2 separate regions of the Homo sapiens genome follow, and region 1 is reported to be linked to region 2. Evidence: microRNA targets listed by miRTarBase, many of them from high-throughput screens and not tested one by one. Region 2 holds a microRNA gene; the other region holds the end of a gene's coding sequence.
What was found. The annotated mature microRNA hsa-miR-4668-5p reads AGGGAAAAAAAAAAGGAUUUGUC and lies in region 2 at 3,527-3,549, shown strand. An mRNA with a match to its seed (bases 2 to 7 or 8) in the 3' UTR can be bound and repressed. Matches are read on the target gene's strand: a 7mer-m8 pairs with bases 2 to 8, a 7mer-A1 pairs with bases 2 to 7 and ends in A, and an 8mer does both.

Region 1: the mRNA of DENND10 is a reported target of hsa-miR-4668-5p. Seed matches in the 3' UTR shown: 7mer-m8 at 6,058-6,064.

Annotation. Positions count from the first base shown.
Region 1 is chr10:119,136,156-119,143,262 of GRCh38, reverse strand. It overlaps DENND10 (DENN domain containing 10), which reads right to left. Exons shown (of 9, transcript NM_207009.4): 9 at 5,279-6,792. The coding sequence ends at 6,616. It overlaps SFXN4 (sideroflexin 4), which reads left to right. Exons shown (of 14, transcript NM_213649.2): 14 at 1,944-2,496. The coding sequence ends at 2,021. Among named protein-coding and RNA genes, the nearest start is that of SFXN4, 26 kb to the left of the region's middle. RefSeq lists an enhancer at 315-816.
Region 2 is chr9:111,928,574-111,935,693 of GRCh38, forward strand. It overlaps MIR4668 (microRNA 4668), which reads left to right and starts at 3,527; the gene lies at 3,527-3,596. UGCG (UDP-glucose ceramide glucosyltransferase) reads left to right here. Exons shown (of 9, transcript NM_003358.3): 6 at 927-1,105; 7 at 2,698-2,784; 8 at 3,597-3,786; 9 at 4,254-6,796. The coding sequence ends at 4,424.

The DNA of each region.
Region 1 (7,107 bases), not on the chromosome of region 2:
GATGGGAAGGGCTGAATGGGCACGTGAGGCTGCAAGGAACAGGCAGGATGCTGGGGGCCAGGTGGCAGGGCCTGCACAGCCAGGCCAAGGAGCAGGGCAGCAGGTAAGTCATGCAAGGTTGGAAGGGGCAGAACTCCCAGAGGCCAGAGTGGAGGCAGGAAAGGGAGTCAGTCTCACGCGTGACCTCAGATGCCAAGACTTGCTTGCTGGACTTTGGAAATATCCTGTTGGGGCCGGGCGTGGTGGCTCATGCCTGTAATCCCAGCACTTTGGGAGGCCGAGGCGGGCGGATCACGAGGTCAGGAGATTGAGACCATCCTGGCTAACACAGTGAAACCCCGTCTCTACTAAAAATACAAAAAAATTAGCCAGGCATGGTGGCAGGCGCCTGTAATCCCAGCTACTCGAGAGGCTGAGGCAGGAGAATGGTGTGAACCCTGGAGGCAGAGCTTGCGGTGAGCCGAGATCGCGCCACTGCACTCCAGTCTGGGCGACAGAGCAAGACTCCATATCAAAAAAAAAAAAAAAAAAAAAAATTCAAAACATTAGCTGGACGTGGTGGCGGGTGCCTGTAGTCCCAGCTACTCGGGAGGTTGAGGCAGGAGAATGGCGTGAACCCCAGAGGCGGAGCTTGCAGTGAGCCGAGGTCGCGCCACTGCACTCCAGCCTGGGTGACAGAGTGAGACTCCATCTCATTTAAAAAAAAAAAAAAAAAAGACACAAAATATCCTGTTGGCTCAAGGAGGGCATGGAGGTGCTTAGATGAGATAAGGAGTTATTACTAATTTTGTTAGGTGTGACAATGACATAGTAGTTTTGTAACTACTGTCATTACTATATCAAGTACTATATCAATAATGATAAGGTCTTTATCATTTGGAACTTGTAGGTGACATGACATGAGAATTGCCTTAAAATACTCAAGGAAAAAAATCCTACTGCTGGGTGTGGGAGGTGCTTGATGAAATGAGATCTGCAAATTGTTAATAGTGATTCCTGAGTGAGCACATGTGAGTTCATTACATTCCTTCTACATTTGTTTTTTGTTTGTTTGTGTGTTTGAGACAGGGTTTCTCACTCTGTTGCCCAGGCTGGAGGGCAGTGGTATGATCATGGCTTACTGCAGCCTTGACTCCCAGGCTCAAGTGATCCTCTGACCTCAGCCCCCCAAGTAGCTGGGACTACAGGAACGTACTACCACACCTGGCTAATTTTTTATTTTTTGTAGAGATAGGGTCCCACTATATTGCCCAGGCTGATTGCAAACTCCCCACCTCAAGCAATCCTCCTGATCTCGGCTCACTGTAACCTCCACCTCCCAGGTTCAAGTGATTCTCGTGCCTCAGCCACTGGAGTAGCTGGGATTACAGGTGTGTGCCACCACACCCAGCTAATTTTTGTATTTTTTGTACCATGTTAGCCGGGCTAGTCTTGAACTCCTGGCCTCAAGTGATCTACCTGCCTCAGCCTCCCTAAGTGTTGGGATTACAGGCATGAGCCATTGTGCCCAGCCATCTTAAAACTTTTTAATGGAAACTTTCAATTATAAACAAATGTAGAGATAAGTAAATAACAATAATGGGCCAAGGATGGTGGTGCGCGCCTGTAATCCCAATCCCAGCTACTCGGGTGGCTGAGGCATGAGAATGACTTGAACTTGGAGGGTGGAGGTTGCAGTGACCTGAGATGGTGCCACTGCACTCCAGCCTGCGCAACAGAGCAAGACTCTGTCTCAAAAAAAAAAAAAAAAAAAAAGTTTAAGAAGTTTCTTTACTGCTTGGGTGATTAAAAAAAAAAATAGGTTACATTTTCTGCTATAGATTAGACATTATTGAAAAAGATGGACTGTGAAATGGTTGCTTTCAGAAAATGATTTTTTTAACTTGGCTTCTAAGGCAAGAAAAACTATTAATAGAAACATTATGAATTTAACTATTTTTCAGATACAGTACTGTAGTCTTGAAGAGAAAATTCAGTCTCCAACAGAAGAAACAGAAATCTTTTATCACAGAGGGGTGTAGGCGTGAGTTTTAGGTGAATTTATGTGGTTCCTGCTTGAAAACCTTCCCCTCTCCAGGTTCGGTTTAGAGAACTTTGCCACAGGTCTTCTGGGGACCCCAGAGGTGTCTGTGCTGACAAGGCGACTTCAGATTCCATACTGAGATCGTTCCCAGGCTGGCGTCTCTGGGGTTTTTAAGGCTGGCTGGAGAAGACAGTGGGAGGGTGCCCCGTCTGACACCCCTGGGGTTGCTGAGGGAACGGTTGGAGTGGGGATCGGCCTGCGAAAGGATACTGTGAAATCACTAATTAACTAATAAACCTGTCTCAAGTTGAGGATTTGAAGAAAGAACACAGAGTCCACCGTGCCCAGGACACAGGTGTTAAATGGATAGGCCGTCTCAAGCGGAACACGTACCCCTGGGGCGCTGTTTACGCCCTCCAACCCCAAAAGCAATCTTGTTTCCTTACTCAGTGTCCTCCATTCTAGACAGCTACTTAAAACCTTTGCCGCCCTCCGCCCAGTGCCTCCTTTCTCCTCTCTGGCAAAGGACCCTGCCTCCTCCGCCAGGAAACAGGTCAGCAGTGGAGCCCCCCACACCCGCACCCACACCCATCCTTCCTCCGTGTAATGCCAGCGTCCTCCAGGCTCTGGGCCTCTCTCTGCTTCCTCAGGGCTGTGCTCTGTAGCCTCTGTCTGCCAGGTCCTTCCCAGAAGTATGTAAACTACTTGTCGGCCAGGCGCGGTGGCTCACGCCTGTAATCCCAGCACTTTGGGAGGCTGAGGCCAGTGGATCGCCTGAGGTCAGTGGATCGCCTGAGGTCAGTGGATCACCTGAGGTCAGGAGTTCGAGACCAGCCTGGCCAACATGGTAAAACCCCGTGTCTACTAAAAATATAAAAATCAGCCAGGCGTGGTGTTGCGCACCTGTAGTCCAAGCCACTCAGGAGGCTGAGGCAGGAGAATCACTTGAACCCTGGTGGCGGAGGTTGCAGTGAGCTGACGTCATGCCATTGCACTCCAGCCTAGGCAATAGAACGACTGTGTCTCAAAAAGAAATAAACTGCTTGTCACCTGCCTCATTAGAGACAGGATCTTGCTGTCACCCAGGTTGGAGTGCACTGGCACAATCAGCTCACTGCAGCCTTGAACTCCTGGGCTCAATGAGGACCCACCTGCCTCAGCCTCCTGAGTGGCTGGGACTACAGGCGCCTGTCACCACGCCTGGCTGTAGCCAGACACTTTAAAAGAGTTGTCCGCCCTCACTGTCTCCACCCCACCTCCCGTTCTGCTAAGATTTCTCTCATCCGTGACCCACCTGAATGTGGCACTGCCACACTGCTGGGCACTCAGGCTGGTCACTGAGCTGCTTACTTGGCTGTACTTTGCCATTTGGATGTCCCAGACACCTCAAACTCAACCCATCCGAACCTGAGATCAGCTCTCCCTCCCAGTCTCAGGAATTGACACCACCACCTCCCCAGGTGCACCAGACAGGATCACTGGAGGCGCCCTCTCCCCACCTTACCAGCCTATGCAGTAGACAGGGCCCAGTACATGGAGTCTGGAACCCACATATGCCCACTGCTACCACCCAGCGCAGTCCAACAGCATCCCCTGCTGGCACTGCCTGGCCCATCTCCTGCCTACTCCCTCCGGTCCACGTTCCAGCCTGCTCTTCTAAACCACACCTGCTGAACAACTGTTTTTTTTTCTTTTGAGACGGAGTCTCACTCTGTCACCCAGGCTGGAGTGTAGAGTGCAGTGGCGCGATCTTGGCTCACTGCAACCTCCACCTCCTGGGTTCAAGTGATTCTTGTGCCTCAGCCTCCTGAGTAGCTGGGACTACAGGCATGTACCAGCCACCACGTCCAGCTAATTTTTGTTTTGCTTTTTTTAAGTAGAGATGGGGTTTCACCATGTTGGCCAGGCTGTCATCTCCTGTCCCCGCGATCCACCCACCTTGGCCTCTTTAAGTGCTGGGATTACAGGCCTGAGCACCGCACCGGGCCTGAAAAGCCTTAAATGGCTTCCCAGTGCGTCAAGATCAAGCCCACCTTCCTCACCACAGCAAGCCTTTCCCATACTCGTATCCTGCCACTCCCTCCCCTCCCTGTAGACCCTCCAGGTCCTCACATGGGCTGTGGTCTCTTCTCAGGGCCTTCACACAGCTGTTTCCTCTGGTCTGAGTAGATGTCTACTTAATGCTTCAGGCCTGACTTTGACATTGATCACTCCCTCTGGGAGGCCTTCCAGGATTGACAGCACTGAACTGGGTCCCCATCTATGTGCTCCAATACCACTCTGTTTCACACATCACGCCTAGCACTAGCCACACTACAGCAGCCTGTTTGCTGACCCTATTCCCCAAGCGGACTGTGCGCAGCACCGCGAGAGCGGGAGCTGCTGCCCATCAGGGTAGTTCAAAATACAACACAGGCATGGCACAGAGTAGGTACCTCAACATTTGAGTACTGGACTAATGCTTCCAACACACCCTACCCCACATTACCAAAGAATTTATCTGTGGTTTTGTTTCCCCAAGGCCAGTATGATGGTTCATTTCCAAATTTGGTGAGGAAAGTTTCATAACAGCCTAAAAGGACAAAATCAGTAAATGGCTCAGTTTGACCATAGGCTGACACTAACCAAAATTAAAGTTAGAGAACAAGATGGGCAACAGCTGCAGGTGGAGGTTTAACCGCTAACAGATGACAGAAATGTGAAGGCATCTTCCAAGGACAGGAGACTGAAGTTACAGAGGCAGCTCCAGGAAGGCGAGTGGAGGAGGGCTAGGGCGGGAGGAAAGGGTGTGTGGGGGACGGCTTGAACTTTTTTTTTTTTTTTTTTTTGAAACCAAGTCTCGCTCTTTTGTCCAGGCTGGAGTGCAATGGTGCAGTCTCGGCTCACTGCAACCTCCGCCTCCCTGGTTCGAGCAATTCTCCTGCCTCAGCCTCCCAAATAGCAAGTAGCTGGGATTACGGGCATGTGCCACCACACCCAGCTAATTTTTGTACTTTTAGTAGAGATGGGGTTTTACCACGTTGGCCAGGCTAGTCTCAAACTCCTGATCTCAGGTGATCCGCCCACCTCGGCCTCCCAAAGTGCTGGCATTACAGGCATGAGCCACCGCGCCCTTGGCCGTCTTGAACTTTCAGACAGGTCTTTTAATAATTCCCTAGCGCCCTCACAGTTGAAAAAAGGTATTTTTTCCCCATTTTCTTTGGAATGAGCAGTATTAGAGAAAGAGGGGACAATTCGTCACCCACCTAAAAGTAGTTGAATATCAAAATATATCAATTTTATTTCTGCATCATAAATTTATAATTTTAACAACTTTGATCATTAGCTAATATAGTAATACAAAAAAATGAGAAAAAAGATGTTAATATTCCTCATTTCCATAAAGTGCAGATTTAATTTTCAATTATTTGCCTTAGTAAACATTGTCTTATTTCAGGTACTCCCTGCCCTCACTCAAAAAAAAGGGAGGGTGTTTAATTTTTATTGAACAAATATGTAATACCAAGAAAAAGATGAAAGACCCAATAATGTTTTTTGCAAACATGTTTCCAGGTAAGATTTCCAAGGACATCAGTACTGAGTGAAAAATAATCCTTTACAGTCAATATGAATGAATACACTAACAAGTACATCATTTAGATCTCCATGCTTATTTGGCAATTCCAGTTATGAAAAAGGTACATAAATAGTACAAACAATTGGCTTGACATGTGGCCAAACTACTTTCATCGAAGTTGCTGGAAGCCTTTCTCTGGTTTTGGCCCCTGTAGGAAGTTAATCTCATATTCCCTTAGCAATAATATAAGGTCACTGTTTCAGTCCTACACACTTTTATATTCAATGGGCTTCTTAGTTTATCACATAAGGACTGGCACTTTTTTCAAAAGAATATTGCTAACAGGGTTAAATGAGTGCTAATGGCTGAACGTTTGCCAAATGCTTACTTCTGCGATAGTATAAATATGGATTATTAAAGTTGTCTACTCAAGTATAAAATATATGCAAAACTCTCATAGGCAAAATGTTCAAAGGCCGGGAAAAACCTTTTTTTTTTTTTTTTTTTTTTAACTTTTACGAGAAAGTGCAACTGCAGGGTCTCTTGAATGATCTTCTAGACAGTTCCGCAGAAAATTAGCAGTTTGGCTCAGAAAGTAGAGTTCCTCAGGAGGAATTAAAGTTCTTCCTAGAAGAATACAAAGCAACGTTTCAGGCAGCTTTCTGAAAATAAACCATTAGCTTATGCCTACACAGCGAGACAAACTGGAACGTGTAATAATGAAGGCTTTCACATTTGTTGTGATGTGCTTTTTTTCTCTTACCCCAGGACCTCTAGCTGTTCTGTAATGTTACATAAAGTAGTTATAGCACTTCGTCCAGCACTGACAGCAGGCAGGAAGCTAATCAGCGAGGAGAAAATCGGAAGTGTGTTCATGTGTTTCATTGTTTTTCAGGTCAAATCTCAATACTTGCAAATAAATCATTAAAAAGATATAACAGTTTCTCTGTTATTTTCAGGACTTCATGTAGTGAGTGGGTAATCAGAGTGAAAGAGGGCTTTCTATCAGTCATCAGTGATACGTTCTGTCACACAGTCAGATTTTCAGCATTTGTTCGGCTGCTGCTAGATGATAAAGGAAGTTTTCTGTTGCTGGTGGAAATCGTTTTTGCTTTAGCGCCTCCAAATTAAGGACTCTCTTTTCTCCATCAGCCGAAACTTCTGAAAACGGTGCTAGGTTGGTAAAGATTTCTCTTGTTTTTAGAGCAATATCCTTTAATAGAACAGGAAAATATATGCAACATGTTAGTATCCGAAATTTGAATATTTAGTCTCTAGAATTCTTCCTATTTTTTCCAGACTGTTTATAAACTATGAAAAATGAGCTTGGCGTGGTGGCTCATGCCTGTAATCCCAGCACTTTGGGAGACCGTGGCAGGAGAATGTCTTGAGTCAGGAGTTAGAGAATGCAGTGAGCCATGATTGCACCACTGCACTCCAGCCTGGGCAACCCTGTCTCAAAAACGAACAACAAAAAAGATAACTCCTTTTTTTGTTGTTGTTTTCGAGACAGGGTCTCGCTCTGTTA
Region 2 (7,120 bases):
ATGTGCCTCTGTTCTTAGAAGTCAGGTTCAGTTCAGTCCCACAAACACTAGGGCTTCACTGGAGTCTGGGTTCAGGGTAGGTAGCAAGAATCATAATCATAATTGCCCCTTAGAATTCTCTTGCTCTGCACTGTGTGTGTAACTCCTAAGAAAGATGACTACTCTTTATTTCAGGCTAATTAGAAAAGGCAACATATCTGAGGTGTAAATAATAAATAGGATTTTATGTCTACTAAGTAGGGTAATAACAGTCCTTTTCTACCATTGATTTATCAGCGTATATATCTTATGACTTCAGAGTATATGCAGAGAAATGGCAGTAGCGGATGAGAGAATTTTAGTATCCCCGTTATGAAAAATACATTGAAAAAAATGGAGAAATTGGGAAGAATCTTAGTGACTAAGGGAGAGGGAGCAGCTAGCTACAAAAGGATGCAAGAAAAGGAATTAAGAAATAGGATTGTGTCCCCTCCCCACCCCCCACCCCCCAAAAAAATAGGATTGTCCCGAAGGTTGATATACCTATGGGTGGTGTGTGTATGCATGCATGTATATATACACACATATACGTAACATACAAATATGTATATTGATCCCAGTAAAGTAGATGTGTGTGTATATTTACATGAACACCCTAAAAACAAGATACATTGAATATTTGTTAATATTTTATATATCAATGAGTGATATTTTTACCTTATTTTGTATCTAAATTAAGTTTTATTTGGATGCATTTTTAGCTTACTAACTGTGCTTGCTCTATGAAAGCAATATTGTCTACCACTTTTTATTCAGGTAGTCTACGTAAGAATAATAAGATATTCACTCAATCATACTTATAAAAAAACCATTGGGAAAAACAGTTCGTGAACACCATGCTTTTAACATGAAATTCTAATCATACACGTTTGTGGTTTTTTGGGCAGGTATATTTTGGAACTTCACATCCAAGATACTATATCTCTGCCAATGTAACTGGTTTCAAATGTGTGACAGGAATGTCTTGTTTAATGAGAAAAGATGTGTTGGATCAAGCAGGAGGACTTATAGCTTTTGCTCAGTACATTGCCGAAGATTACTTTATGGCCAAAGCGATAGCTGACCGGTAAGACAACTAAATGAAGCCATAGTATTTTTATTACCTAACTTCTGTTGGTTTATTCTTTTTGTTCAACCTATAGATTAGGGCTTTTTAATTTAATTTTATTTTTTTTGCTAGTAAGTACAGAATAGGTCAATAATTTTATTATTTTGTTTGTTTTTGAGACAGAGTCTTGCTCTGTCACCTAGGCTGGAGTGCAGTGGCGCGATCTTGGCTCACTGTAGCCTCTGCCTCCCGGGTTCAGGTGATTCTCATGCCTCAGCCACCAGAGCACCTGGGACTACAGGCATGTACCACCATGCACACTAATTTTTGTATTTTTAGTAGAGATGGGGTTTCTTCATGTTGGCCAGGCTGGTCTTGAACTCCTGAACTCAAGTGATCTGCCCACCTCGGCCTCCTAAAGTGCTGGGATTACAGGTATGAGCCACCACACCCAGCAGATCAATAATTTTATAGAGTAATTCATATTCTAATTATAGAATTGTAGATATGTACTAATGAAGAAGGTAAATGTTCTGATTCCTCTACATTTTTCAAATTAATGTGTTTTAAAGCGATTAAAAGTAAGTTTCTCTGTGTTTAGAATTTTTACTATATAGATACAAATTTCTGTGTTTTAGAAGAATTAAAACTATCAGTGCAGTCATAAACTAGTAGGTGAAAATTTAAAGACTATCATTTCAAAATTTGAAATTTGTCAGTGAATTATATGATACTTTGCTAAGAAGCCACTGAAAGATTCATATGACTGACTTAGCATTTCTCTATCACAAAATACTTGTTTTGTTTTGGTTTTTTTTTTTTTTTTTGAGACAGTCTCGCCCTGACATCCAGGCTGGAGTGCAGTGGCGCAATCTCGGCTCACTGCAGTCTCCGCCTCCTGGGTTCAAACGATTCTCCTGCCTCAGCCTCCCAAGTAGCTGGGATTATAGGCACCCGCCGCCACACTCAGCTACTTTTTTTTGTATGTTAGTAGAGGCGGGGTTTCACCATGTTGGCCAGGCTAGTCTTGAACTCCTGACCTCGTGATCCGCCCGCCTCAGCCTCCCAAAGTGCTGGGATTACAGGCATGAGCCACTGCATCCAGCCTAAAATACTTGTTTTTAAAGGAGATCACTGCCTTGTGTGAGAATTCTTTTAAATTTTTTAAAAACTGAAGTGTGTTTTAAATACAAATTCTGTCATGATTGTGTTCATGTGGTTCATGGTTTCCTAGTGTCTCCCATGAGATCCATAATGCCACTTTCTGTTTACATGTCTTGTTGTTTGGTTAGTAGTCATCAGAGACTAATCTATTAAATATGGAGCCCTCTCCATTTTTTTTCAAAATGACTGCATTTTAAGTTTCTTAAATTGTAAAGTAAGGTGGGTACAGTTTCTTCTAGTTCTTAGATGGTGCTGTCACGGGCCAGCATAATTGCTAAAACATCCATACGTATGGTAGACCTTAAGTCATGTGCTAATCATGAAAGCTGGGCTCACCCTGAATACCGGCAGTTGCCTGGTCTTTATAATGATTACTGAATGCATAACCAGTTACGCTTGCATGTGTTCATCATCATAACTTATTTTCTAATTATCTTAATTTTCAGAGGTTGGAGGTTTGCAATGTCCACTCAAGTTGCAATGCAAAACTCTGGCTCATATTCAATTTCTCAGTTTCAATCCAGAATGATCAGGTAAATCAACTGTTTTCTTTTTATACTTCGTTAAAAGGAAAGTGGGGAGGGGGGTGGTAATTTTTACAGGTTTAATGTAGTTAAATGAATGTACCTAAAGGTTGAAGATTTTTGTTTAGTTGCAGAAAATAGAGTTTAACGTCTGTGTTTAAGATAAATTTAATGTCTAAATGTATTTTATTTGCTGTATAACACTGAAAGCACTCATTAGAGAAATGTTGAGACTGAATTTTTTAATATGCTGATCTTTATTTTCTAACTTTCTGTGCTGATTAAATTTTATTATCTGTATTCATCAGAGCGTAGGCCATACAAATGAATTTAAAGACATTTTTCTTTGACATCCTAGACAAAAATAGAAAAGAGAGTCATTAAAAAAAATTTTTAGGTTGTGTGTGGTGGCTCACACCTGTAATCCCAGCGCTTTGGGAGGCCAAGGCGAGAGGACTGCTTGAGCCCAGGAGTTTGAGACCAGCCTGGGCAAAATGGTGAAACCCTGTCTCTACAAAAAATGCAAAAATTAGCCAGGTGTGGTGGCGTGTACACCTGTGGTCCCAGCTACTTGGTGGGATGAGGTGGGAAGATCGCTTGAGCCTGGGAGATTGAAGCTACAGTGAGTGCCACTGCACTCCAGCCTGGGTGACAGAGCAGAACCCCGTCTCAAGTAAAAAAAAAAAAACAAAACAAAAAAAGTTTAAAGAGAATGGTCTTTCTATCACAGGGTAAAAAAATTGATTATTTGAGGGAAAAAAAAAAGGATTTGTCTTGTAGCCAGGATATTGTTTTAAAGAAAATCCTTTTTGTTTTTCCAGGTGGACCAAACTACGAATTAACATGCTTCCTGCTACAATAATTTGTGAGCCAATTTCAGAATGCTTTGTTGCCAGTTTAATTATTGGATGGGCAGCCCACCATGTGTTCAGATGGGATATTATGGTATTTTTCATGTGTCATTGCCTGGCATGGTTTATATTTGACTACATTCAACTCAGGGGTGTCCAGGTATGTGGATAGGCATGAAAAGGTTGGCAGTCCCTTGGTGGAACTAGAACTATTTCAATTTAGAAAAAGTTGAAGGAAATGTATCTGAGCCATTCTTCAGCTTCCCATTGTAGGTTAGTCTCGGGTTTGAACATGACTTTCTCTAGTGGAATGTTGATGCAAAACTTAAGTCGATTTGCAACTTTCTATTGGTTATATAATCGCTTTTATTAAGTTTCCAAAAACATGAAGTTAATTAAATCAGTGAGTATTGAAACTAATAAGACATTAAGATAGCAGTTATTTTAATGCTTCATTAACAATTAGCATTTTCTTGAACGGTATAACATGGCAGTTAAATTACATAAGGAAGCAGACTTGATTTTACATAGTATACTTAGAAAAGTGAAATCCAAGAATTTAATTTTTTAACCTTGTCTTTAGTTTGACAGTGAGTGAAATTAAAAAATTTTTTTTTCCATTCCTAGGGTGGCACACTGTGTTTTTCAAAACTTGATTATGCAGTCGCCTGGTTCATCCGCGAATCCATGACAATATACATTTTTTTGTCTGCATTATGGGACCCAACTATAAGCTGGAGAACTGGTCGCTACAGATTACGCTGTGGGGGTACAGCAGAGGAAATCCTAGATGTATAACTACAGCTTTGTGACTGTATATAAAGGAAAAAAGAGAAGTATTATAAATTATGTTTATATAAATGCTTTTAAAAATCTACCTTCTGTAGTTTTATCACATGTATGTTTTGGTATCTGTTCTTTAATTTATTTTTGCATGGCACTTGCATCTGTGAAAAAAAAAAAAAACACATCTGTAGTCTTGGCCAAATGATACACTTTATTTTGTGGAAGTAGAGAATCAAGAGAATTGGTTCTAGGAACCTGGGTTCGTTCATCATTGTTGTTTATTTTTTTAAAATAAATAAATAAATATATATATAGATGCTCTGCAACAAACTCTGTGACAGTATCCTTCAGTAGAGAAAGTTTCTTACTTGTGAGTACACTCTTTTAGAACATTTACGGGTGGCAGCAGCTTTGCTTTAGAGTTTAGAAGATAATAGAAGGAATGACTATTCATGTCCAAAGTGAATGGTTTTGTGCAGTGAACAACACATGGCGAGGTACTAACTGAGAAACTTTTTCATGCTTTATGCCTACCTCTTGTAGTTGTTGCAGAGCAAATATAAATTGTAATAAGATAGCTAGGCCTTGCAGAAACAAACAGAAAAACTTAAAAAAAAATGATATAAGAGCTGGAGTCTAGTATTTATATGAATCTGTGAGAGATAATTTTTTTGGTCTCACTGCAATGAACCAAAAGCGGCTGAGTTTGGTTTTTAATTGTAGCCATGTATTGAAGGCATCTTTTTGACCAACTCTTGTTGGTTCTGTCTTGAACCATTGTTAATCACTGTGCTGTAATTAGTATAGCTAAATCTTTTCCTTCCTTGCTCCTCCCCCAGCCCACCCCGTCTTCCCTTAACATTTTTTCAGGGGGGGTTGGGAGTGGTTTCATTTTAGTGTGAGTGGATGTTTTGATAGTTGTAAGGAAAAAATGCATTTCAGACACATTTCACACATGAGCTATTTTCTTACACAGTATGTCTTATTGTTAATAAGAATGTAATTTCATGATACAAGTATTTAATACCTTTTTTAAGTCAGTAAATATTCTAGCCATCAATAAATTGCAGTAGAGTATTAAGAGGGGACAGGATGAGTTTACTCTTAAAATTAATCAGTATCAAACTAAGTCTACTGTGTGTGTTTTTTTTTTTTGTTTTTTGTTTTTGTTTGTTTACTATTATAGTAAGTCTAGTCTTATTTAAATTGGATTTTTGTATTCAAGTTTATATGACAAAATAGACTAGATCAGCGCTGGTTGTAAATGCATGCTGTACCTCACTGTTTTCTCCCCATCATGCCGCTAAACTTGCTCGCCAGGTTGTGCTTAACTTGTGGTGAACTGGACTTGATTCTGTTTTGTTTTGTTTTTTTAAAAAAAAAAAACAAAAATGTAAGGGACAGTGCATAAGCCTTTTCTTTGTTAAGTAGTGGTGTTTTGCTTTTTCTTCAGGATTGGATGGCATGTTGTCCACAGGAATGCCTACTGCAGGGCTAACACTGGCAATATGGCAGCTTTAAATTCTGAGTTACTACAGTCTCCATGTCAAAGCATAATGTGTAGCATATCAGCAATAACTACATATTTATAGAAAACACTTTTTCACTTTACTGAGCCAATTCATTTAATTGTCAAATGTCTATATCCATGGTTTAAATGGCAACATATCTATAAGTATGTATACACATTATATTTAAGCTTTTCTCTGGGCCAAACTGCTTCATCCTTTTTTCTTTCTTTTTTTTTTTTTTTAGCCTTATGATGAATTTGTTTGAAGGGCATTTTCTTTATGAACAAAGGCTTGGATGCATATTCCTTTCTTTCTGTGAATGGGTATTATTCCCTGAGGAAAGTTGCACAGTGAAAACCAGTCTGGTTGTGACCCACTACATGTTTTGTTTTTAATCACTATTACCTGAGTTGAACTTTGCTCACCATGTTTGTACTTGTTGGTCTGTTTAATGAAGTTTGGTTGATGCCATCCTTTGCACTGCCGAAGCGTAATCTTGTGTATTACTTAGCTCTCTGCTGATCTCAGTATGGACAGTGTAACAACAAAACCAAAATGGCTGGACAGACTTCTTGTGTTTTGTAAATATAAACTAGGACAGTTCTGTAGGTTTGTTCAGTGTGCTAGTGGAGTATTTCCTTAATGTAAAACTTCACTTAACAGAGAGATTCTTTGTTTAGCAAGCTTGGAGTGATGATAAAATGGTAAGAAATAATATAAATGTTGAAGAAAGCATCACAACAGAACTATAGGAGTCTAAATTTAATAAATCTTTAAAAAAAACCAGTGTCTAGAATATATACCATGTTTTATTATTTAAAATCATTGTCTTAAATTTTTGTTCAAAAAATAAAAATTTGAATACAATCAAAACGTTAGCAATAGTGTATTTTTTGTTCTTCTGTATTTTTATAAGTAGCATGTTCCACCATTCACATCAGAATTATTAGAAGAGTTCTGTCAAGTATTCCTTTTGAAATCTTCCTTTTACCTGAGCCATAGGTAAAATAAATAAGGACATAGGCAGTCCTGTGACTTAAGTATGGCTTTTCTACATTGGTTGCCTGTTAAAATCACCTGGAGAACTTGTAAAAAAAAAAAAAAATACACAACACACACCCTGGGCCCTGTACACAACACACACACACACCCTGGGCCCTGTACACAACACACACACACACCCTGGGCCCTGCCCAC